Homo sapiens: one gene and its partners. The protein of the gene in region 6 purifies or fractionates together with the protein of the main gene of each other region. This does not show direct contact. Each region holds a gene or a part of one and is shown on either strand. Other genes may lie near its edges. The genes, in order: INVS, TNS1, FLG, CEP164, ZNF746, NPHP1 and ZNF282.

The links.
Region 1: the proteins of NPHP1 (region 6) and INVS purify together in Homo sapiens (affinity purification with western blotting; one study listed by BioGRID). This does not show direct contact.
Region 2: the proteins of NPHP1 (region 6) and TNS1 purify together in Homo sapiens (affinity purification with western blotting, with the first as the bait; one study listed by BioGRID). This does not show direct contact.
Region 3: the proteins of NPHP1 (region 6) and FLG purify together in Homo sapiens (affinity purification with mass spectrometry; one large-scale study listed by BioGRID and IntAct). This does not show direct contact.
Region 4: the proteins of NPHP1 (region 6) and CEP164 purify together in Homo sapiens (affinity purification with western blotting, with the first as the bait; one study listed by BioGRID). This does not show direct contact.
Region 5: the proteins of NPHP1 (region 6) and ZNF746 purify together in Homo sapiens (affinity purification with mass spectrometry; one large-scale study listed by BioGRID and IntAct). This does not show direct contact.
Region 7: the proteins of NPHP1 (region 6) and ZNF282 purify together in Homo sapiens (affinity purification with mass spectrometry; one large-scale study listed by BioGRID and IntAct). This does not show direct contact.

What each region holds. Positions count from the first base shown.
Region 1 is NC_000009.12:100,300,343-100,302,675, reverse strand, and holds the end of INVS (inversin), read right to left. Parts: intron 2,109-2,333; coding exon 2,002-2,108; 3' UTR 501-2,001; downstream 1-500. Other genes in the region: TEX10 (testis-expressed protein 10), read left to right, coding at 372-485. UniProt on the Homo sapiens protein: Required for normal renal development and establishment of left-right axis. Probably acts as a molecular switch between different Wnt signaling pathways.
Region 2 is NC_000002.12:217,801,639-217,804,106, forward strand, and holds part of TNS1 (tensin-1), read right to left. Parts: 3' UTR 1-2,468.
Region 3 is NC_000001.11:152,308,136-152,311,751, reverse strand, and holds part of FLG (filaggrin), read left to right. Parts: coding exon 1-3,616.
Region 4 is NC_000011.10:117,334,341-117,337,956, reverse strand, and holds part of CEP164 (centrosomal protein of 164 kDa), read right to left. Parts: intron 3,324-3,616; exon of another isoform or gene 3,153-3,323; intron 2,353-3,152; 5' UTR 2,277-2,352; intron 1-2,276. UniProt on the Homo sapiens protein: Plays a role in microtubule organization and/or maintenance for the formation of primary cilia (PC), a microtubule-based structure that protrudes from the surface of epithelial cells. Plays a critical role in G2/M checkpoint and nuclear divisions.
Region 5 is NC_000007.14:149,487,711-149,491,326, forward strand, and holds part of ZNF746 (zinc finger protein 746), read right to left. Parts: intron 1-3,616.
Region 6 is NC_000002.12:110,170,471-110,174,086, forward strand, and holds part of NPHP1 (nephrocystin-1), read right to left. Parts: intron 1-3,616. UniProt on the Homo sapiens protein: Together with BCAR1 it may play a role in the control of epithelial cell polarity. Involved in the organization of apical junctions in kidney cells together with NPHP4 and RPGRIP1L/NPHP8. Does not seem to be strictly required for ciliogenesis.
Region 7 is NC_000007.14:149,208,940-149,212,555, reverse strand, and holds part of ZNF282 (zinc finger protein 282), read right to left. Parts: intron 1,972-3,616; coding exon 1,852-1,971; intron 202-1,851; coding exon of another isoform or gene 199-201; coding exon 85-198; intron 1-84.

The DNA of each region.
Region 1 (2,333 bases), on a different chromosome or scaffold from region 6:
TGTTGGTTGGCCCTGTAGAGTTATTCTCAGTTGGCACTGGGGTAAAGATCATGAGACACTAGAATGGCAAGAGGGAGAGGCAAGGGTGAAGGGATGGTTGGTGGTGAAATTTCATTAGTCTCTAGCATGTGCAGGAGGGAACAGACTTAACAAGAAACCATTAGCATTTGAGGATATAACTAGGAATTTTCACTGCCTGTGGTAATGCCCAATTAATAGTTCCCTGTTTCCTGGAAGACTTCCTATGGTAATTTACAGATGGGGATACAGTTGCCAAAGCTCTGGGAAATTGTGTTTGGGTGTGAAAAATACTGTCAGGTAGCATAGTGATTTGGGTGCAGTTCTCAGATTACTCTTGTTTTTCTCTCCAGACATTGAAGAGTGGAAGTGTTCAGGAACAGTGGCTCACAGACTTACATTACTGCTTCAACGTGTATATCACTGGGCATCCCCAAGGGCCCAGTGCACTGGCTACAGTGTATTGAAGAGGCCATAGTACCTCCTGTTTGAAGTTGTTTATTCACATCTATCTTATTTGAAGAAAAAGACTGATGTAATAGATCTTTGTCATTAAAGCTGAACTTTTAAAGAAGTTTACGAACCTTCTTTCTTTGCACTGATATATGAAAATAATGTTTGGGCGTTCCTATTGATGTGTAGGCTGGCTTCCCGGACTAGCACACGATACATGGTCATAGGCGGTTGTGCATTGTGCATTTCATAGGAGCTAAATATTTACAAAATAGAGAGTGATACTGTGGTACCTTCTGTTATATACCAAGAAACTGGCTAAATCTTTGTAATTCCATCCAGGCAGACCTCCTTCTTTGTGTTTTTGTGATCACAAAAACGATGAATGTAATAATTAGTAAACTAAAAACCAAGGTAATTAAGTGAACACTTCATTGCCTATCTGTCTATCTCTTACCGTTAGCACAGAAGTGGCACTGATCTGAAGAAAATGAAAGCAACCCCCAAAATACCTGTGAGTAAAATATATCACTGTTTATGCCTACTGTCAATATTCTCACAGCAGCTTTCCCCTTAAACAATGTGAAAGAGCCCATCATCACTGGATTTTATTTAAACCAGGTGTTCTTAGAATGCTAGGATGTGTGCCGTTTCATTCTTCCCTGCCAACAGAAATGGCATTTTAAGAAGATTGCTCACTTCTGCAAGTTGGTCAGAAAATACAAGTAGAACGTTGACGCCTGAGTTAGCACCTTGCTGCATGAACAGTCTGGTCTGTAAACCCTACCTGACAGAATCCTTGATACTGTAATACGGCTGTTGGTATTCAGCACTGAGAAAGCCATTCAGTGAAGACGTGGCGGCAACTTGTGGCCTTGAGAGGCTAACGTAGGAACTGTAAAATGTAAGGAATCACCAGAATGTATCTATGGTCTTTTGGACAATTTCTAAATGAAAACAGTGGGCAATGATTCTGATCTAAAATTTAAACCTGATTAATTTTGAAGTAATAGTGGGACGTGATATGTGTGTGTGTGTGTGTGTGTGTGTGTGTGTGTGTGTGTGATAAGTTTGTTGCATTAGATGCCAGGAAAGTAGTGAGAGGAAGGCTGCTATGGGACAGGCTTCCTATCTCATTTAGGTTCATCTCTTGAAACAAGAAGCCAGTACCAGCTAGCTGGCAGAAATCCCAACCCAGCAGCCGTAGTTTTCCTTAGATTTTGCTGTTAATTATGAATTCTCATTTCCAACTGTACAGACTGAGGTGAAAGCAGACACTCAGGCACTTTGCACAGACATAGTCTATGCAGGTCCTTTCAGTGCAGGCTGTGTTGATTGACAAAACAATGCTGTGTAAGAGCAGAAAGGAAACATTCTGACATTTTCTTTCAGTTAACACATTTTTAGGTGAATCAGCCTTCAGGTACGGATATTAAAGTTTTCCCAAGGTGTAAAAGATTATCAGCAGAAAATCTGAACTCTGCACTAGCTATGCCAGCTCCCCCGAACACAGTCTTCCTCCATAGGCAGTCAAGGTTTTGTTTTGTTTTTTGGCTGAGTAGCTGATTGCAGGTTATAAGAAAAGTTCTTTGATCTTCCACTGTTCTCAAGGAGATGTATACACTGTAGGTTGCTCACTGTTAAAAACAAATACCAGATAGATATTAAGGTTATTAATTTTAAGGCTGAAGGGAATAGTTCATTGGTGTTGAGGAAGAAGGATTTCGGTTTAGGCTATCCCTGGGATGATGGGCCAGTTTACTGTAGAGGCAGGATGACTTAATATAATAGCTTTATATTTCCTGCAGTCTCAAGATATGGGACATCTCTTCAAGGGAGACTTGATTAAGAGAGAGCAGGCA
Region 2 (2,468 bases), about 110 Mb from region 6:
AAAGTGCTTGCTTTTAAAGGAAATCTTTGGCAAGAATATACTGCAGTGCGGAGTGTTGTGTGTGCGTAGGTGTGTGCATGGGTGCACAGCCCGCCGTGACACAGAAGGGCTCTGGTGCAGGGCCCAGAGGTGGGGCCACTGTGGGGACTGGGGAACCCTTCCCCATCATTCGCCTTGAAAAGTCACACTCTCAGAAACTGACTCCTTCCGCAGGGATGCTGGGAGGGAGTTACCAGCTTTCTGGCATGAATGGGTCCTCCCGCAGGGGCACACATGGCTCAGGCTGGAGTGGAGGGGCTGGCCATGCATGCAAGGTGGGCTGTGGTGGGTGGTGAGGAAGGGAAAAGCGACCGTGAAAGCTGACCCCAGACTCAGTCCTGGGCCCCAGCCAGGCTGCTTGAAGGGTCTGATACACCGCCCAGCCTCAAGTGTGGACAGAACATCCATGCCAGGAATAGGCTCCTGGGCTCTCCAGTGGGAGATGAGATATTTACAAAGGAAGGGGATGGGAAATATCTCCTATCTTGGAAGATAATTGGGGTTTGCTAGGGAATGAGGAGAGGGGGAAACCCAGATATTTGGCTTGAATAACCCAGAAGGAAGAGCACTTTGGAGGGACTTTGGTCACCAGGCACAAGGTTTCACTCTGGGAAGCAGGGGGTGGCCAGTGGGGCCTCTGCCCCTGCTCTCCACCTTCTGCAGACACCCTCCTTTCCAACTCCCTGAAACAGAACGTCCACACTGACACAGCTCCTTGGAGGAGAAAAAATACAAAAGACACACACGCACCTATGTGTGCCATACACACCCATGTCCCCGCATGCTCACACACTCGCTCAGGCCTGCAGAGTCAGGGACAGCTCCCCACACATCCTGGGAGCTGACTGCTGGGCCCCTGGCTTGCTGAAAAGTAAGGGGGCCAAAGGCTGGGACATGTGCAACCCCTCCCAATGCTGAGCCCCACACAGTCTAGGGAAGGCCAAGGCCAGGGCAAGGAGACCCTGGCTGCTTCAAGAACAAAGGCCCCCTACACTTCAGGCTTTACTTACACATATAAAAAAGGATAGGAATTGGTTTATCCCCAAGGAAGGCAATAAAGCAATATGGAAAAACAATAAATACTTCTTGTCAATTTACCTATTCTTTTTTTAACCTTTTCTTACATTTTATTAGCTTACAGATTCTGTCAGTATGTCTCATGTATATATTATATAATATTTATATATCAGTACAATGCCTCTCTCTAGGGGACTCGCATAGGCTTAAGAATGGAGTCCTGGTGAATTTTCCATTCTGGCTTAGAGTCCTTAAATGGTGGTCAGGTGTTTTCCCAACTGTCCAGTGGACCTTAGGCCCTTTGGCCCAAGTGCAAGCCTTCTGCCCTCTGCTGCATGGGCAGCGTGGCTCAGCTAGGGAAACCAAGGCAGAAAGGGTGACAGTGAGGCTTTGGCATTGTAGGTAGGCGATGTGGTGTGCAGGCAGCAGGCCCAGGAGCTCTGCTGAGGTCAGAGGGTGCCTGCAAAAGCCAGACCCTAAAACACTTACAGAGGGGAGGATAAGGACTCCAGGTTTCTGGCCGGAGCCTCACTGAGCAGAAAGTAGGTTCCCCAGGGAGAATTCCAACACAGGGACCCTGCAGAATAGAACAGGGCTGGGCAGAGCAGCAAGACTCAATCCCCAGCCCCCAAAAAGGCATCATGCAGGTAAGCAGGTCTGAGATAAGGCTGGTCCAGGGGCATGAAACCCAATAACAAGGCTGAGAGGTGGGAGCTAAGGCAGAGTCCAGGGCCCCAGCAGGAGCAACTTGCCTTTCTTGCTGCTGAGCCACATGCCTTGGGGAAGACACCCCGAGCTCAACAGCTGCCTGTTCTGACAGATCTCTTCCTATGGATACACATATCTCTACCTCCTCAAACCAAAGCTCCAGGCTTCTGGCCAAGGCAGGACAGGGCGATGCCATTGCAGACCCTCCCACTCCTGCTGGGGTCTTTGTAGAAGAGAAGGGTCTGGCGGCACCCAGGGTCACTAGAGTGCAGGTGCAGGCACCAGGAGAGAGCCTCTGTCACCCATAGCTTGGTTGTTTGTCCCTCCCCTGCTGCACTGCCACCACCAACCCTAATCTTTGGACAGTATGCATGTGTGTCTACAAACACATGGGACAAGGACAAGCCGAGCTGTTTATAATTCGAGTGGATAAAGGCAGATCTAGATCAATGTGTGAGGATGTGGGTGCAGACACACACCCACACGACAATATAGTGGAGGCACAGCAAAGAGACCTGAGGTGCCTTGGGTCTGAGATACTTTCAAGCAAACAAGTTCTTCCACTTGATGTCCCACGGTGGCTCTGTTTGGTTTGACAACCTACCCCACAGGTGGCCAGAAAAAGATTCTCCCAGCTTGATTTCCCCTTGCAAAGCAGTTGAGTTAGGGAGACAGAGCTTTTCCATTCCCCCAAAAAATGTGGA
Region 3 (3,616 bases), on a different chromosome or scaffold from region 6:
ACACTCAGGCATTCCGCGCAGACAAGCTTCATCTGCAGTCAGAGACAGTGGACACTGGGGGTCCAGTGGTAGTCAGGCCAGTGATAGTGAGGGACATTCAGAGGAGTCAGACACACAGTCAGTGTCAGGCCATGGACAGGATGGGCCCCATCAGCAGAGCCACCAAGAGTCCGCACGTGACTGGTCAGGGGGAAGGTCTGGACGTTCAGGGTCTTTCATCTACCAGGTGAGCACTCATGAACAGTCTGAGTCTGCCCATGGGCGGACCAGGACCAGCACTGGACGAAGACAAGGATCCCACCACGAGCAGGCACGAGACAGCTCCAGGCACTCAGCGTCCCAAGAGGGTCAGGACACCATTCGTGCACACCCGGGGTCAAGGAGAGGAGGAAGGCAGGGATCCCACCATGAGCAATCGGTAGATAGATCTGGACACTCAGGGTCCCATCACAGCCACACCACATCCCAGGGAAGGTCTGATGCCTCCCATGGGCAGTCAGGATCCAGAAGTGCAAGCAGACAAACTCGTAAGGACAAACAATCAGGAGACGGCTCCAGGCACTCAGGGTCACGTCACCATGAAGCTGCCTCTTGGGCTGACAGCTCTAGACACTCACAGGTGGGACAGGAACAATCATCGGGGTCCAGGACAAGCAGGCACCAGGGATCCAGTGTTAGCCAGGACAGTGACAGTGAGAGACACTCAGACGACTCCGAGAGGTTGTCTGGGTCTGCTTCCAGAAACCATCATGGATCTTCTCGGGAGCAGTCAAGAGATGGCTCCAGACACCCTGGGTTCCATCAAGAAGACAGAGCCAGTCACGGGCACTCTGCAGACAGCTCCAGACAATCAGGCACTCATCACACAGAGTCTTCCTCTCATGGACAGGCTGTGTCATCCCATGAACAGGCAAGATCAAGTCCAGGAGAAAGACATGGATCCCGCCACCAGCAGTCAGCAGACAGCTCCAGACACTCAGGCATTGGGCACAGACAAGCTTCATCTGCAGTCAGAGACAGTGGACACCGAGGGTCCAGTGGTAGTCAGGTCACTAACAGTGAGGGACATTCAGAAGACTCAGACACACAGTCAGTGTCAGCCCACGGACAAGCTGGGCCCCATCAGCAGAGCCACAAAGAGTCCGCACGTGGCCAGTCAGGGGAAAGCTCTGGACGTTCAAGGTCTTTCCTCTACCAGGTGAGCTCTCATGAACAGTCTGAGTCCACACACGGACAGACTGCACCCAGCACTGGAGGAAGACAAGGATCCCGCCATGAGCAGGCACGAAACAGCTCTAGGCACTCAGCATCCCAAGACGGTCAGGACACCATTCGTGGACACCCGGGGTCAAGCAGAGGAGGAAGGCAGGGATCCTACCACGAGCAATCAGTAGATAGGTCTGGACACTCAGGGTACCATCACAGCCACACCACACCCCAGGGAAGGTCTGATGCCTCCCATGGGCAGTCAGGACCCAGAAGTGCAAGCAGGCAAACAAGAAATGAGGAACAATCAGGAGACGGCTCCAGGCACTCAGGGTCACGTCACCATGAACCTTCCACTCGGGCCGGCAGCTCTAGACACTCACAGGTGGGCCAGGGAGAATCAGCGGGGTCCAAGACAAGCAGGCGCCAGGGATCCAGTGTTAGTCAGGACAGGGACAGTGAGGGACACTCAGAAGACTCTGAGAGGCGGTCTGAGTCGGCTTCCAGAAACCATTATGGATCTGCTCGGGAGCAGTCAAGACATGGCTCCAGGAACCCCAGGTCCCATCAAGAAGATAGAGCCAGTCATGGGCACTCTGCAGAGAGCTCCAGACAATCAGGCACTCGTCATGCAGAGACTTCCTCTGGTGGACAGGCTGCATCATCCCAGGAACAGGCAAGGTCAAGTCCAGGAGAAAGACATGGATCCCGCCACCAGCAGTCAGCAGACAGCTCCACAGACTCAGGCACTGGGCGCAGACAAGATTCATCTGTAGTCGGAGACAGTGGAAACCGAGGGTCCAGTGGTAGCCAGGCCAGTGACAGCGAGGGACACTCAGAAGAGTCAGACACACAGTCAGTGTCAGCCCACGGACAGGCTGGGCCCCATCAGCAGAGCCACCAAGAGTCCACACGTGGCCAGTCAGGGGAAAGGTCTGGACGTTCAGGGTCTTTCCTCTACCAGGTGAGCACTCATGAACAGTCTGAGTCCGCCCATGGACGCACAGGGCCCAGCACTGGAGGAAGACAAAGATCCCGCCACGAGCAGGCACGAGACAGCTCCAGGCACTCAGCGTCCCAAGAGGGTCAGGACACCATTCGTGGACACCCAGGGTCAAGCAGAGGAGGAAGGCAGGGATCCCACTATGAGCAATCGGTAGATAGTTCTGGACACTCAGGGTCTCATCACAGCCACACCACGTCCCAGGAAAGGTCTGATGTCTCCCGTGGGCAGTCAGGATCCAGAAGTGTCAGCAGACAAACACGTAATGAGAAACAATCAGGAGACGGCTCCAGGCACTCAGGGTCGCGTCACCATGAAGCTTCCTCTCGGGCCGACAGCTCTAGACACTCGCAGGTGGGCCAGGGACAATCATCAGGGCCCAGGACAAGCAGGAACCAGGGATCCAGTGTTAGCCAGGACAGTGACAGTCAGGGACACTCAGAAGACTCTGAGAGGTGGTCTGGGTCTGCTTCCAGAAACCATCTTGGATCTGCTTGGGAGCAGTCAAGAGATGGCTCCAGACACCCTGGGTCCCATCACGAAGACAGAGCCGGTCACGGGCACTCTGCAGACAGCTCCAGACAATCAGGCACTCGTCACACAGAGTCTTCCTCTCGTGGACAGGCTGCGTCATCCCATGAACAGGCAAGATCAAGTGCAGGAGAAAGACATGGATCCCACCACCAGCTCCAGTCAGCAGACAGCTCCAGACACTCAGGCATTGGGCATGGACAAGCTTCATCTGCAGTCAGAGACAGTGGACACCGAGGGTACAGTGGTAGTCAGGCCAGTGACAGTGAGGGACATTCAGAAGACTCAGACACACAGTCAGTGTCAGCACAGGGAAAAGCTGGGCCCCATCAGCAGAGCCACAAAGAGTCCGCACGTGGCCAGTCAGGGGAAAGCTCTGGACGTTCAGGGTCTTTCCTCTACCAGGTGAGCACTCATGAACAGTCTGAGTCCACCCATGGACAGTCTGCGCCCAGCACTGGAGGAAGACAAGGATCCCATTATGATCAGGCACAAGACAGCTCCAGGCACTCAGCATCCCAAGAGGGTCAGGACACCATTCGTGGACACCCGGGGCCAAGCAGAGGAGGAAGACAGGGGTCCCACCAAGAGCAATCGGTAGATAGGTCTGGACACTCAGGGTCTCATCACAGCCACACCACATCCCAGGGAAGGTCTGATGCCTCCCGTGGGCAGTCAGGATCCAGAAGTGCAAGCAGAAAAACATATGACAAGGAACAATCAGGAGATGGCTCTAGGCACTCAGGGTCGCATCATCATGAAGCTTCCTCTTGGGCCGACAGCTCTAGACACTCACTGGTGGGCCAGGGACAATCATCAGGGCCCAGGACAAGCAGGCCCCGGGGATCCAGTGTTAGCCAGGACAGTGACAGTGAG
Region 4 (3,616 bases), on a different chromosome or scaffold from region 6:
CATTCTAAACAGAGGGAGCATCTTGCACAGACAGGTGTTCCAGAGTGGGGATACCAACATGTGTGACCGGCTGGTCACAGTGAGCCTTGCAGACCGTGCTAAAGAGCCTCCACCCTGTCCTACACCAGAGGGGAGTCACTGAGGGCTCTGGTGAAACAAAGTATCACAGGGTGGCCTTTTTTTAGGACAAGAATTCTGGCAAGACTGGCATGGCTGGATTGGAGAAATGAGAGACTGGTGTCAGGAAAACCACCTGAGGAGGCTGCTGCCCAGGGGCGAGATGATAAGGACTTTAACTAGGGCAGAAGCAGGGGAATGAAGAAGAGACAGTCAGAACAGACCCAGTGATGTTAAGCTTAATAGGACCAGGATATGGGGGAAAAGTGGAAAGGAGCTACATCCCTTCAAAATTCACATATGTATATATTTTACTTTTTTTTTTTTTTACAGAGATGGTGTCTCACTATGTTGCCCTGGCTGGTCTTGAACTCCTGGGTGCAAGCAATGCTCCCGCCTCAGCCTCTCAAAGTAAGAAAAATACACATATTGAAGCCCTAATCCACAATGTGACTGGTTCTTTAGGAGGTAATTAAAGTTAAATGAGGTCATTAAGGTTAAATGGCCTGATAGGATTAAAAGGAGAGGAAGAAAGGACCAGGAACCAGGGCAGCAGATGGGGCCCACTGTCTAGTGGCTTAGAGGTCTCTCTCTACCATCTGAGGACACAGCAAGAAGGCAGCTGTCTGCAAGACAGGAACCAGCAACAGACTTTGATATGGGCCTTCTAGCTTCCAGAACTATGAGAAAAGAGATTTCTGTTGTTGGAGCCCCCCAGTCTACGGTATTGTGTTACGGCAGCCCAAGCGAAGACAGAAGTCCAGCTTGAATCCAAGGTTTCTAGCTCCAGGGATGGGGCGGTGCCAAATTCTTCAACTGAGAAGCTGGTGCACTTCTAGAATTGCTCCTCTCTTCCCACCCCTACCTCAGGACCCCAGTTCCCACCAACTCTCCCCATGGCAGCTCCCATGCTGCAGCCTGATGAAGGAAGTCGCCTGGGAAACTGCTGCCACACACAGACCTGCTCAGAGCACCTCCCCAACCTGCAGAGCAGTTGGCCACACCAAATGTGACCAACAGGAGTCTGGAGCCACAAGTCCTGACCTCTCCAGTCCCCACTTCCTCAGAAGCTGCCACTGTTCCTCCTGGAGCAGCAAGGATGAAACGGCCCTCTTCAAGCAGAAAGGCCCAGCCATTAAAAACATCAGGATCTGGTAGAACGCATCAAGCCCAGGCAGCCGTGGAAAGGCTGGAGGACACACCTAAACATGTGGAATCCCAATGCCAGACAGCCAGGGCCAAATCCATATCCCCCAACACTGGGTGCCCTGGAGGTTCCAATCCTGCCCACCCACCACCTATCAATCCACCCTTTCCCCCAGGCCCCTGTCCTCCTCCCCTAGGAGTTCCCCAGGGCAATCCAGCTTTCCTCCCAGGTGGGGCCCCTCATCCTGTACCACAGCCAGGGTATCCAGGATGCCAATCCTCGGGTCCCCACCTTCCTCCATACCCACCGCCTGCCCCTGGAATCCCTCCTGTGAATCTCTTGGCTCCTGGCATGGTCAGACCAGCAGTGACAGCGGACAAGAAGATGCAGAATAAAATGAAGAAAGCTCATAAAAAGATGCACAAGCACCAAAAGCATGGCAAGCATTCCTCCTCCTCTTTCTCCTCCTCTTCCAGCAGCGATTCTGACTGAATACAGGCCCTGGACCCTTCCCTCAAGTCTCACCAGTTCTGCTCTCCCATCAAGCTTCAGAAGCCATGTTGTACTGGGGGAAAGTAGCCCTTGTGCTCCCCCCACCCCACCCCCAACCTGAGCCTCACCCTGCTGTTGAGCCCTGAATGGATAGGGAAAATGGGAAGAGGATTGCCATGGCCTGGCCATCTTCTTGCTGCTTGGATAGATCAGATAGCTAATGAGTTTAGCAGGGGAGCTATTTTTTTGAAGATGATGAACTAAATATTGAAGACAAGTTTGAGATCTGTAAAATGTGATTTTTTTTTACTTCTGCTTATAATACTTGTGATTGGGGAGGTTTGTGGAAATTTAATTATGATTAGAAACCTCTATCTTTTTTGTAATGTTGGCATACTTGGGGAATTTAGTGGCAAATACATTCCCCAGCAGGCCTTTTGTTGGTTGCACTAACTGCAAGTTTGGTGGGAAGTAGAGTCCGTTTAGTCGATGAGCTTTGACCGCCGTTTTGGAACCTTACCTCTCCTCCTTAGCCCAATATACTCTCAGGTCCTATTCTCATTCTCCAGCTCTCAGTCCAAATAAAGTTATTTCTCCTGGTTGAAAAAAAAAAAAAAAAAAGTCAAGATCTGGCCTAGAAAGGAAATGGCTGGATCTGGAGACTCTGAACCTATTCCAAGGTTCCTAGAGACCCCTGACAAGCAACAAAGGATCCATCAGGGATTGTTTACTATGGCCCCCCTCTGTACCATGACAGCTAACGGGTGGGCAACAGAGGAGTCCTGCCTTAGGACTCACAAGACATGGTTCCCTTTGTCAGTGCACTGAACCTGAAGGGAGCCAGCTTCTGCCCCTCATTCCCACCATGCCACCTCCAAGCAGGAAGAAAACACCAAAGGAAAAGGGCTTCTTTCAACAGTACATAAGCTGAAGTGGGAATGTGCTCCCAACCCTCAGAAGAACCCGTAACATCCTGCAGACATGATGCCCCACTGTGCTACACACACAGTCAGAGGCGACGCAGGCCTGACCACTGCTGACTAAAAAGCTGAGCAGAAAAGGACCAGGAACCCGGGTGGCAGATGGGGCCCACTGCCTGGTGGCTTACAGAGTCACCTGAATCTTTAATCCTCTTAGGGAGAGGAGAAGAAAAAAGGAAAGGATCCACGGGCAGGGAGGGCCCAATGGTGGCCTGAACATTAGGGTGAATAAGCACTTCCCAAGCATGTGCTCTATACGAGGTACTATCTTAACTACCTCAGAGAATTTGAGAAATTCTGCATTTGAGAAATGTCATCCCCTAGATGCATCCCATCTCCAGCAAGCACAGGACAGGTAGTCTCTGTCCACATGGCAACAAGACTAATTTGCTATATACATAATGATCTATATTTACCTTTTTTTTTTTTTTTTTTTGAAACGAAGTCTCAGTCTGTCACCCAGGCTGGAGTGCAGTGGCACGATCTTGGTTCACTGCAACCTCTGTCTCCCAGGTTCAAGCTAGTCTCTTGCCTCAGCTGCCCGAGTAGCTGGGATTACAGGCACCCCCACCATGCCTGGCTAATCTCTGGATTTTTAGTAGAGATTAGATTTCACCACATTGGCCAGGCTGGTCTCAAACTCCTGATCTCAGGTGATCCACCGGCCCTGGCCTCCCAAAGTGCTGGAATTACAGGCAGGAGCCACCGCACCTGGCGATATATTTAACTACTTAAAGATCAGGAAAACTCTGGGAAATCTGAATTCATGGATCATCCAAATTCAAATAAATGTTCTGCCAGAAAAAAATTAAAATATGGGTGGGTTGTATTCTACCTTCTTTCCTTACCTTATCAGGCTCTAGAAAAGATGTGGGCAAGG
Region 5 (3,616 bases), on a different chromosome or scaffold from region 6:
CATTTATAATGAAAAACAACTATCAGAAGAAAACTGTAAAATCTTATTCAAGCACATAGAAGCCTTCAATAAATGAGTGTTCCAATGAGTAGAAAGGCTAATGTTGTCATGAGAGCAATTCTCCAGAAATTAGACTGTAAAGTCAATGCAATTCCAATCAAATTTCCAACAGGATTTTCTTAGGAACTTGACATACAGATCCCAAAATTCATATAAAAGAACAAATATCCAAGAATAGCCAAGACAGTTTTTTGAAGAACAAGCAGAGAAGGATTAGTCTACTAGATATCAAGGCTTATTATGAAGCTAAAAGAGCAAGCTGTTGGTGCAGAGACTGACAAAGAGACCAATGACACAGAAGCAAGCACCCAGAAACAGACTTGTGCACATGCAGAAACCAGCTCAGGACAGAATCGCATCACAAATCAGTGGAGAAAAGCTAACACATTCAGCAAACTTTGTTGGAAAATGAGACCATCGTTGTGGGAGAAAAAACTGAAACCCTCCCTTGCAAGCTACACAAATTTTAATTCTAGATAAATTAAAGACTTAAATTTGAAAAGCAAAACTTTTAAAAATTTATAAAAAAAATAGAGAAGAGTATCTTTCTGACCTTGAGTGAGGTAAGCAAGGATATCTCACTACAGAAAAAGCACAGATCATAAAGGAAAAGACTGACATGTTTGACTCTTTCAACAGTGAAAACTTCCATACAAGAACTACAACGTTAAAGACCTGCCACCGACACGGAGAAAATGTTTGTAACACAAATAATAGACAAAGGATTTGTATCTAGAACACATACAAAGAAGCCCTGAATCAAGAAGAAAATGAAGAATATCTCAATAGAAAAACAGAAGACAACTCACTGGAGAAGCAGCCAAATAATCGTATAAAAAGGGCGTGCAACTTAAGGGGGAAAATACAAGTTGAAACGAGAGGCCATCTCACCCCCATCAGGTCGGCAAAAATGTAATTATGGAAACTGGGCAGACGTTAGGAAGCAAGTTCTAGGAGCACCCGCTGGCACTGGGTACCCCTGGGGAGGGCCATACAGTAACGGAAGAGATGAAATCAAGCCTACGACGTGGTGAGGCCACCGCTGGGTCTACTCCCTGGAGCAGCATCCCCACAGGGCCACAAAAAAACAGGCGCAAGAACGCTCACTACAGTATTGCTTGTGAGAGTGAACAATCAGAAAAAGCTTAAGTGCCAATCAGTGGAGGAATGGAAAATAAGTTACAATATAGTTGCTTCTGGAATATTAAGCATCTGTTAAAAGGAATGAACTTGATCTACATGTATCAACATGGATAAGTCTGAAATACAGAATAATGAGTGATAAATATAATGACATCTATGTAATTTTTCAGAACACAAAAAACCGTATTATATATTGTTTACAGCTACCAAAGTACACAGCAGACGTTTTAAAATGTGGATAGAAAGAATAAACAGAAAATTCCTAGGGAGGCCTGGGAGACCTAAAAAGGAATTTAAATGCTATCAGAAATACATTATTTCACACACACACACACACACACACACACACACACACACACACGTTTTAAATTTTGAAACAGCATACATTCAGCAAATAGTTATTGAATTCCTACTCTGTACTAGGCAATACTCTAGGTTCCTAAAATGATTAAACAGGTAAAAATTTTTATACTTTTGAAATTGACATTCTAATGGAGGAGACCTGACATACGATGAATCTATAAATAGGAAACATATATATTATGTGACACTGTCTAACACGGAAGACCCAAAGCAGGAAAGTAGGCCTGGAGTCCTGGGTGGGGAGGGCCTGCAGTGCCGATGACACGAAAGGCCTGCAGGTGGGACCTGCCTGAGGAGGATTCCCAGTAGAGGGCACTGCGAAGGCCCTGGCACAGGGCGGAGGGAACAGCACCAGGGAACAGCACTCTGCAGCTGGGCAGAGTGAGAGAAAAGTGGAGGTGGTGAGCTGACGGTGCGGGTCAGATGGAAAGCCAGGACTTGGGTCTAAAAGGGATTACTCTGCTGGGCTGAGGCAAGACTGGGGGATCAGGGCAGGAGGAGAGGGGCTGGCAGGAGATGACGGGCCTACGTGGCAGAGTAGAGGGGACAAGGCCAAGTAAGAAGACAGACCATTCAGGACCACGGAGGGCCCTGGTAACCGAGGTTGGAGAGGTTTTGGTGGAAGGGGTAACAGAGTGGGGGGGAAGGTGCAGGAGACAGCAAGCGCAGATGTCCCCAAGGGCTCTGCCACAAAGGGGAACAGACAAGCGGGCAGTGGCTGCCGGGGTAGAGGTCAAGGCAGGATTGCTTGTATTGCCCTTGAGAAGATGGCATGAGGTGGGATCTGGTGCCAGATCGAAGTGGGGCTTTGGCTGGAGGGTTGACAGTTTAGCAGTCACAGAAGTGAAGGCAGAGAAGGGGGCACTGGTGCAGGCAGATGGCGTGGAGAGGGCTGTGTGAGTGGTGCGTTTCTCTTTTAAAAAACGGGTTAAAATATAAAACTGTTCTCAGCTGTGCACCATACAGAAACAGATGAGCTAGGTTTGGCCCTCAGCCACAGTTTGCTGGCCCCTGGGCTAAGGAGACACGGTGTGACTGTGTGGCAGAGCGCCCACTGAAGTCGCTGGTCATGAATGTCACGTGACACCAGCAGCCAGCTTACCTGGTTCTCTGCAGCCACGTGCAGCTGCTTGGCTGCAGGTGCAGAACACCGATGGATTTCACTAAGTGGATACAATGAACAAAACAGGGGCAAGAGTGCTGAGGGTGTGTGTAAGGGGGGACCACAATGGTGGGCATGGAGGGAAATGAGGATGAGTCAGGGCAGTGAAAAGGCAGCAGGGTCGATGGCTTGCAGGTCTTGAAGGACTGGAAAACTGCTGGAATCAGGACACCAGACGGAATTGAAGGGACGGCAGGAGGCGGCCAGGGAGTGGTGTGCTGGAGATGGAGATGGTGGGTATGGTAAAGTCACTGTCGTCACAGTCACGGATGGCTGTGGGATGGGTTGGGGGGGCACAGGACAATCAACAAGGAGGCTGCCATGGCCAAGACTGAGGGCAGGAAGAGTGTTGAGAAGAGAGGGAAGGTCTGCAGAAGTAGCAAAAAGACAAGGCCTGGGACCCAAAGGCAAGGTCTCTAGAGAGGGATTGAGGCTGGCAGAGGCACAATCTGAGGGGTGAGGACCCTGTCCCAGTGGGCCTGGGCTCAAGACAGAGGCAGGGAAGAGGATGACAAGCACTCAGAGGGCTGCAGTCCCCTGGAGCTCAGTCCGAGCAGGGAACACTCAGGACCTGGCGGGTCTGCTGAGCCCTGAGTCCCACAAGGCTCAGTGGAGGGATGTGCAGGAGGTGAGGAGAAGGGGAGGTGAGGTCTCACAAGGGGATGGGTCAGGCCAAATGTGGCAAGGGATGAGCTGGGAGTCCTGGCTTCTCAGACAAAGGGGACAGGGATAAACGCCACACAGATCCCTGCCAACAGGCTCAGGATGGACAGTGGAGTTTGTGTCTACTCATCTTGTCTACTGGTGGGTAGAGGCCACGGATGCTGCTGAACATCATACGGTGCAGCTAGAGAGTGTTACAGGGTCTTACCAGCAACCAGCGTATTT
Region 6 (3,616 bases):
ACTTGCAAAGTGTTTAGAACAGTGCTTGCCCATAGCAAGCTTTCCATAAAAGTCAGTTATGATGATGACACTGATGCTGTAGGTCAAGTTCCGTGTCAGAGAGATACACAGTGGACACAAAGGTAAACCAGACATGATTCCCCATCCTCAAGGAGCTTGCAGTGAGACAATCTAGAAAATGGAGAATTATAAAATAGTGCAATAGGTACTAGAGTAGAGGTATACACAGGATACTAAGAAATCAATCACACAAGAGGGACACCTAACCCAGGTTGCACGAATGGGAATCATAAAAGGCTATAATTAGGTCTTGAGAGATGATATGGAATTAATCAGGTAAAATGGGAGTAGAAAGGAAGGGCAGGGAGAGGAGAAAGGAGATTTAAGATTAGGAAACATCAAGTAGCTCATGAATGGTAGGGCAAGGCTTAAGGAAAATGAGTGAGAGTTGAGGCTGAAAAGAGGTACGCGGAATGTAGCCCAGGTGAGCTTTACCTTTAAAGTCGCCCCTAAAAATGAGTAGGGGAAGGACATGATATGATTCCCACTTTAGAAAGGAGACAAAGGTATAATGTGGGGAACAGATTAGAAGAAAGGCTAAAGGTGAGGGTGGCTGTTGAAAGTGAGAAGTGACAACACTATGAACTAAGAAAACAGCATAGGGATGAAGAGAAAGGAGGTGAATCTGAGGGTGAGGAAGAGAGAAATGCCAAAATAATGTTAGCTTGGGCACGTCACTAAATCTTTCTGAATTTTATTTACTCATTCAACATTCAGCAAAGTTTAAATTTTGGGGAGCACCTACTGTGTGACAGACACTATGTGCTTGGGCTATAACAATGAACAAAACCAAGATCTTTGCCCTCCTAAAGCTTACATGAGAGAAGCTTATCTTTAAAATGGGAAAACAATACTTAGACTAATGCAAATGAACATCATTAACTATAAAACTAGTCAACTACAAGATTTTCTCTGGAATAAAAAGGAATATTAGCTGAACTTTGTTTAAAATAATGGTAGGACACTCTTATACCACAATGATCTAAAACATAAACAGGGATGTAACAACCATTTTTATACCACAAGACTAAAAAATCCATAAAATGTCATATTGATTTTCAACGCGTCTCTTTCCTTCTTTAGGAGATATTTTGCACATATTTTATATGGGTCAATTATTCTAAAATGTTGCCGAAAATAATGTGAACTTGATAACGGTTTTTCCCCTTCATTAATGTAGTGAATTTCAATGATTGATTTTTTAATGTTAAGCCAACCTCACACTCTGGAACAAATTCCACTTGGTCATGATGTATTACCCTTTTGAAATGCCTCTAGATTTTACTTGCTAATATTTTATACTGAGTTTGTGCATGTGTTCATGAGGGCCTTGCAATTTTCTTCTAGTGTTCTTGTCATGTTTTGATATCAGTGTTATTGAAAGCTTATAAAATGATTTGAAAGTGTTTCTTCTTTGTTCTCTGGAATGATTTTTTAATATTGGCACTATTTCTTTCTTAAATGTTTACAATAAATTCACCAGTAAAGCCACCTGAGAGTTTAATCTGTGGAAAGGCTTTTAATTACAGATTCAACTTCTTTAGTAAATATTTTAGTAGAACTTTTAAGATTTTCTGTTCATCTTGTGTCAATTTTAGTACATTTTCTTTTTAAAGAAACTAATTTTATCTAAATTTCAAACTTATTCACACAAGTTGTTCATAGTCTTTTCATAGTATCTTTTTAATGCTTGTGGAATCTGTATTGATTTTTTTTCTCTCTCTCTTTTCTTGATCAGTAATGCTAGCAGCTTATCCATTTAATTAATTTTCCAAAAACCAGTTTGGCTTTGTTGATATTGCCTACTGTATGTCTGTTTATTGTTCACTGTTTTCTGCTTTTATTTTTATTATTTCTTTCCTGCTCTCCTTGGGTTTGTTGTCCTTTTTCTGGCCCCTAAAGTTGGATGTTTTAGTAATTGATTTTCAACTTTTTTTTCAAACTATACATTTAAAGATATAAATTTCTGGCCAGGTGTGGCGGCTCACACCTGTAATCCCAGAACTTTGGGAGGCTGAGGTGGGAGGATTGCATAAGCCCATGAGTTCAAGACCAGCCTGAGCAATATAGTGAGACCCTGCCTCTACAAAAAATTTAAAAAATTTGCCAAGCGTAGTGGCACACGCCTGTAGTCTCAGCTACTCAGGGAGGCGGAGGTGGAGAGGATCACTAGAGCCTGGGAGGTGGACGTTGCAGTGAGCCAAGATTGCACCACTATACCCAGTCTGGGTAACGGAGACCCTGTCTCCAAAACAAACAAACAAAAGATAGAAATTTTCCCTTTAAGCACTATGCTGGTTGCAACCCAGTCATTTTATTATCATTCCAAATATTTTCTAATTGCCACTGTTATATTTTCTTTGACTCACAGTTTATATAGAAGTGTGTGACAATTTGCAAACATGTAGTAATTTCTTTTCTTTTTCTTTTTCTTTTTTTTTTTTTTTGAGACGGTGTCTCATTCTGTCACCAGGCTGGAGTGCAGTGGTATGATCTTGGCTCACTGCAATCTCCACCTCCCGGGTTCAAGCGATTCTCCTGCCTCCGACTCCCGAGTAGCTGGGACTACAGGCATGCACCACCATGCCCAGCTCATTTTTGTATTTTTAGTAGAGATGGGGTTTCACCATGTTGGCCAGATGGTCTCTATCTCTTGACCTCGTGATTCGCCCGCCTCAGCACAGGCGTGAGCCACCGCACCTGGCCACATGCAGTGATTTCTAATTATTTTTCTGTCATTGGGTTTTAATGTCATTCCAAGTCATCAAAGAAAATATATATATATTCTACATAATTTCAAACTCTTGAAATTTGGTGACAATTACTTTATGGTCCAATATGGTTCATTTTGGTTAATGTTACAGATGCACTGAAAAGAATATGTATTTACATAATACATACTTAGGTGCTGTGTTCTACACATATATAGTCATGTGCTGCACAACAATGTTTCAGTCAACAATGGGCCACATATACAATGATGGCCCCATACATATAATACCATATTTTTACTGTACATTTCCTATTTTTGGATATGTTTAGATACACAAATACACCATTGTGTTACAATTGTGTACAGTATTCAGCACAGTAACATGCTGTACAGGTTTGTAGCCTAGGAGCAACATGCTATACTATAACTATATAACCCAAGTGTATGGTAACCTACACCTTCTAGGTTTGTGCAAGTACATTCTATGATGTTTGTACAATGATGAAATCACTTAATGACTCATTTCTCAGAACATATCCCTATCACTAAGAAAGGCTTGACTATACATGTAATTAGATCACGGTGGTTAAGGATTGTGAATTATCTAGCTCTGTTTTAGTTCTGGCAACTTTTGCTTTATACATTTGAACCCATATTATTAAATGTATACTCATTTAGGAAGATTTTTTTTCCTACTGAATCGACCCTTTCTTTTATCATTATGAAATGTCCTTTCTTAAATAGTAAATTACTTTTAGCCTTAAATATCTGATATTATTGTAACCGTATCACCTTTGTTTTGGTTATAAAACAAATAATATCTTTGTTGTAGAACATGGAATA
Region 7 (3,616 bases), on a different chromosome or scaffold from region 6:
CATAAACACAATAAATTATTAATTTAATGATTCCTTTTGAAAAACACTTGTTGCCCTCAAGATTCATTCTGACCTTGTTCTCACCTGAATTGGGATCCGTGGGAATATCTCTGTCTGCCAAATCCTGCTGATCCCACACGCACTGATGCTCCTCCTGTTTAATCCGGGACAAGAGGTCCTGGGCAGAAATTGGGGAGTCTACTTGCGGGAACAAGAGCGGCAAAGGTGTTAGAAGATGCGAAATCTCCTGCAAGTTTGTGTTTTGAGTAAATCTCTGATTTCATGCAATTATCTCTTTCCCCTAAACATCAGGTACAATTACATAAGTCTCATTAACTAAAGGTTGAAGTCAGCTTGGCCCCAATTAACGGAGCTTTTGCTGCAAATAAGAGGATGCTGCAGGGGAGTAACATTACAGTCTTTAAGAAAGAGCCTTTCTGTGCTGCAGGAACTTAAATCTCCTTAGAATGAGGTTCCCATTCTGGTGCTGAGACCACCACAGAAAGAGGTATTTCCTCTGGAAAGATGAAAACTTCCAGAAAGCCTCTTTTTTTAAATTATATATTGACAAATTATAGTTGTATATATTTATGGGGTATAAAGTAATGTTACAAGAAGCCTTTAAATCTTTTGAATGGGATTTTTCTAAGATGTAAGAAAAAGACCCTATACTCTCTTTCTTCTACAGAGTCTCTGAAACCTAATTTACACCTTATTGCCTTCTTATCTCTTAAAGATCTCCTTAAAGATCCTAATACTGTGATGCTTTCAAGGGTCATGCCTGATGACAAGTGAACGGGCTTTCCTCTACCCAGACACTATGAGCACTTACCTATGGGTGTGAGGCTCTGACTAAGGGGGGGATGAGGTTTGTGGAGCTCTAACCTGTGGATAAGTAAAGGGCTACAGTATGTTAATATGTCTCATGATTGTTGATTTTATGTGTCAACTTGGCTCGGCCACGGTACCCAGATATTTGGTCAAACATTATTTAGCTGTTTCTATGAAGGTATATTTTTAGATGAGATTTGAACATGTAAGTCAGTAGACTTGAGTCAAGCAGATTGCCCTCTATGATGTGGGCGGGCCTCATCAACCAGCTGAAGGCCTAAGGGAAAAGACTGGCCTCCCCCAAGGAAAAGGGAATTCTGCCTGCAGGCTCCAGCAGCCACATCAGCAATTCCCTGGGGCTCTAACCTGCTGGCCTGCCCTGTAAATTTTGGACTTGCCGGCCTCCACAATCACAAGCCAATTCCTTAAAATAAAATAAATCTCTCTTTTCCACACACACCCTTACAGGTCCTGTTTCTCTGGAGAACTCTGATTGATACATACATCTGCTATAACAGAGCTCTCACCTACGACAGAGTCCAGCTGCAATGCCAGCTAAGAGGAGGTCCCTCACAGGACCGCAGGTATGTAGGTGCCTGGCACAGAGGTAGCAGCCCATAAATACTTGTTTAAAACAATGAAAGGCCTTCCTGGTCAGGGCACAACAGGTCTTCCTGACCTCCCTGTTCCCCCACCCATGAAGCCTTACACTTAGTACTTCTGCCAGGATATTGTTTCTAAAGGGGAAGATGGAATAGTTACAAACGGATAATATGAGGAAGAGAGGAAACAGAACACGCTGAGCCCAGGTGTACCAGCAAATTGTCAATGCTGTTTGCCACGTCTGTGTCTCCTGGAGGAATCCTGGCTCAGCCCAGCCCTGGATGCACAGCCCTTCCATTTCGAGCTCAGCCCTCTGGCCTGGCACATGTGACAGCTAACTCTGGGGGCTGGCAGACCATGCTAACCCTCTCCCCTCCCCTCCCCTCCCTGGTGTGGACGGCTGCTTGGCTCACTCACCGGTAATGGATTCCGTAGGGATGGCTCTTTCCTCCAGGCCCCGCTGACCCCGGACACACAGGGTGTCCTCACGCTTCACCTGGGAGGACGCATCCTGCGCAGGCACCAGGGGCTCTGCTCCTGGGGACAGAGAATGACATTGCTTTGTGTCTTTTTTTCTGCAGGCACCAGGAGCTCTGCTCCTGGGAACAGAGAATGACATTGCTTTGTGTCTTTTTTTCTGCATGCTGGTCACCAGGACATTCTGGGCTCAGAAGCATGGCTGACAGCACTTGCCAGGGGAGAAGACAGGGGTCTCGGGTTCCTATTGGAACCATGGGGGACCCTGAGGAGCAGAAGGTCTCAGGAGCAGAGAGGAAGCCAACATTCAAGAAAAAGGGCTAGGCAAGCAGCAAAATGAGGGGTGATGACACTGAAGAGAGAATTCAGAAACAACCTAGAGCTGTGTAACTGGCTGGGTCCTAATCAGGACTGGGCCACAAGTTGGACCTCTCTGTGGGAGTCATTAGTCCTTGTTAGTCACCCCAGTCAGAAAGAGCTGGCCAGGTTGAGGCCAGATGCACACACACGTGTATATATATGATTTGTGAGAAGCGGGGATGGGCAAAAAGGCACAACTAAGCTCTATTGTTGGACAGATAGTGCAGAACCTCCTTATACAGCCAGTCTCACTGTCGTCAGCAGGTTCTTGGAAACAGTGAGTTCAAGTGAAATGACACATAGCAGATCCTCAAATAACATCATTTCCTTCTATGATGTTTAGTTATAACATTGATGAGAAAGAAAAATTGGTTGTGTTATATGTCACTTTAAAGCCACAGTTTCCGAGACCCTATCAATGACATTAAGTGAGGACTCACTGTGCATAAAAGACAAGGACATAGCCTCTACACAGAAGCCCAGCATGCAACAAACAGGGCCTTTTCTTCTGATGGCGCCCCCTGCTGCAAGAGGAGGCTCAGGCACCAGGAAAGAGAGAAGACAAAGAATCTGAAGACTGGGATCCTGCCTTCAACTCCGCACCAACTCAGTGGATGAGTCATTTAGCCTCTCTGGGTTCCGGTCTACCCTTTTCATCTACAAAAAGGACACAGTGATCCCTGTTCTATCTCATGCTCAGTGATGGTTTGATAACCAACTGAAACTGTTGAGATTACAGTGCTTCAAATGTAAAAATCTACCCCATAAGACTAGGTGCTGTTACTACCGCTGCTGACCTTAAACTTCTGCAGTCCTTGATGAAGACAGGGAAGGAGCCATTTAGAGGAAATGCCCAGGACAGGCAAATTCATAGATATGGACAGTCGATTAGTGGTTCCCAGGGGCGGGGGGTGGTAAAAGAGAGCAGGGAAGGACTGCTTGTGGGTGTGGGGTTTCTTTTTTTTTTTTGAGACGGAATCTGTCTCCCAGGCTGGAGTGCAGTGGCACAATCTCGGCTCACTGCAAGCTCCGCCTCCCGGGTTCACGCCATCCTCCTGCCTCAGCCTCCCGAGTAGCTGGGACTGACTACAGGCGCCCGCCACCACGCCCGGCTAATTTTTTGTGTTTTTAGTAGAGACACGGTTTCACCGTGTTAGCCAGGATGCTCTCGATCTCCTGACCTCATGATTCGCCCTCCTCGGCCTTTCAAAGTGCTGGGATTACAGGCGTGAGCCACCGCGCCCGGCCCTCTTTTTTTTTTTTTGAGATGAAGTCTCCCTCTGTAGCCCAGGCTGGAGTGCGGTGACACAATCTTGGCTCACTGCAACCTCCACCTCCCGGGTTC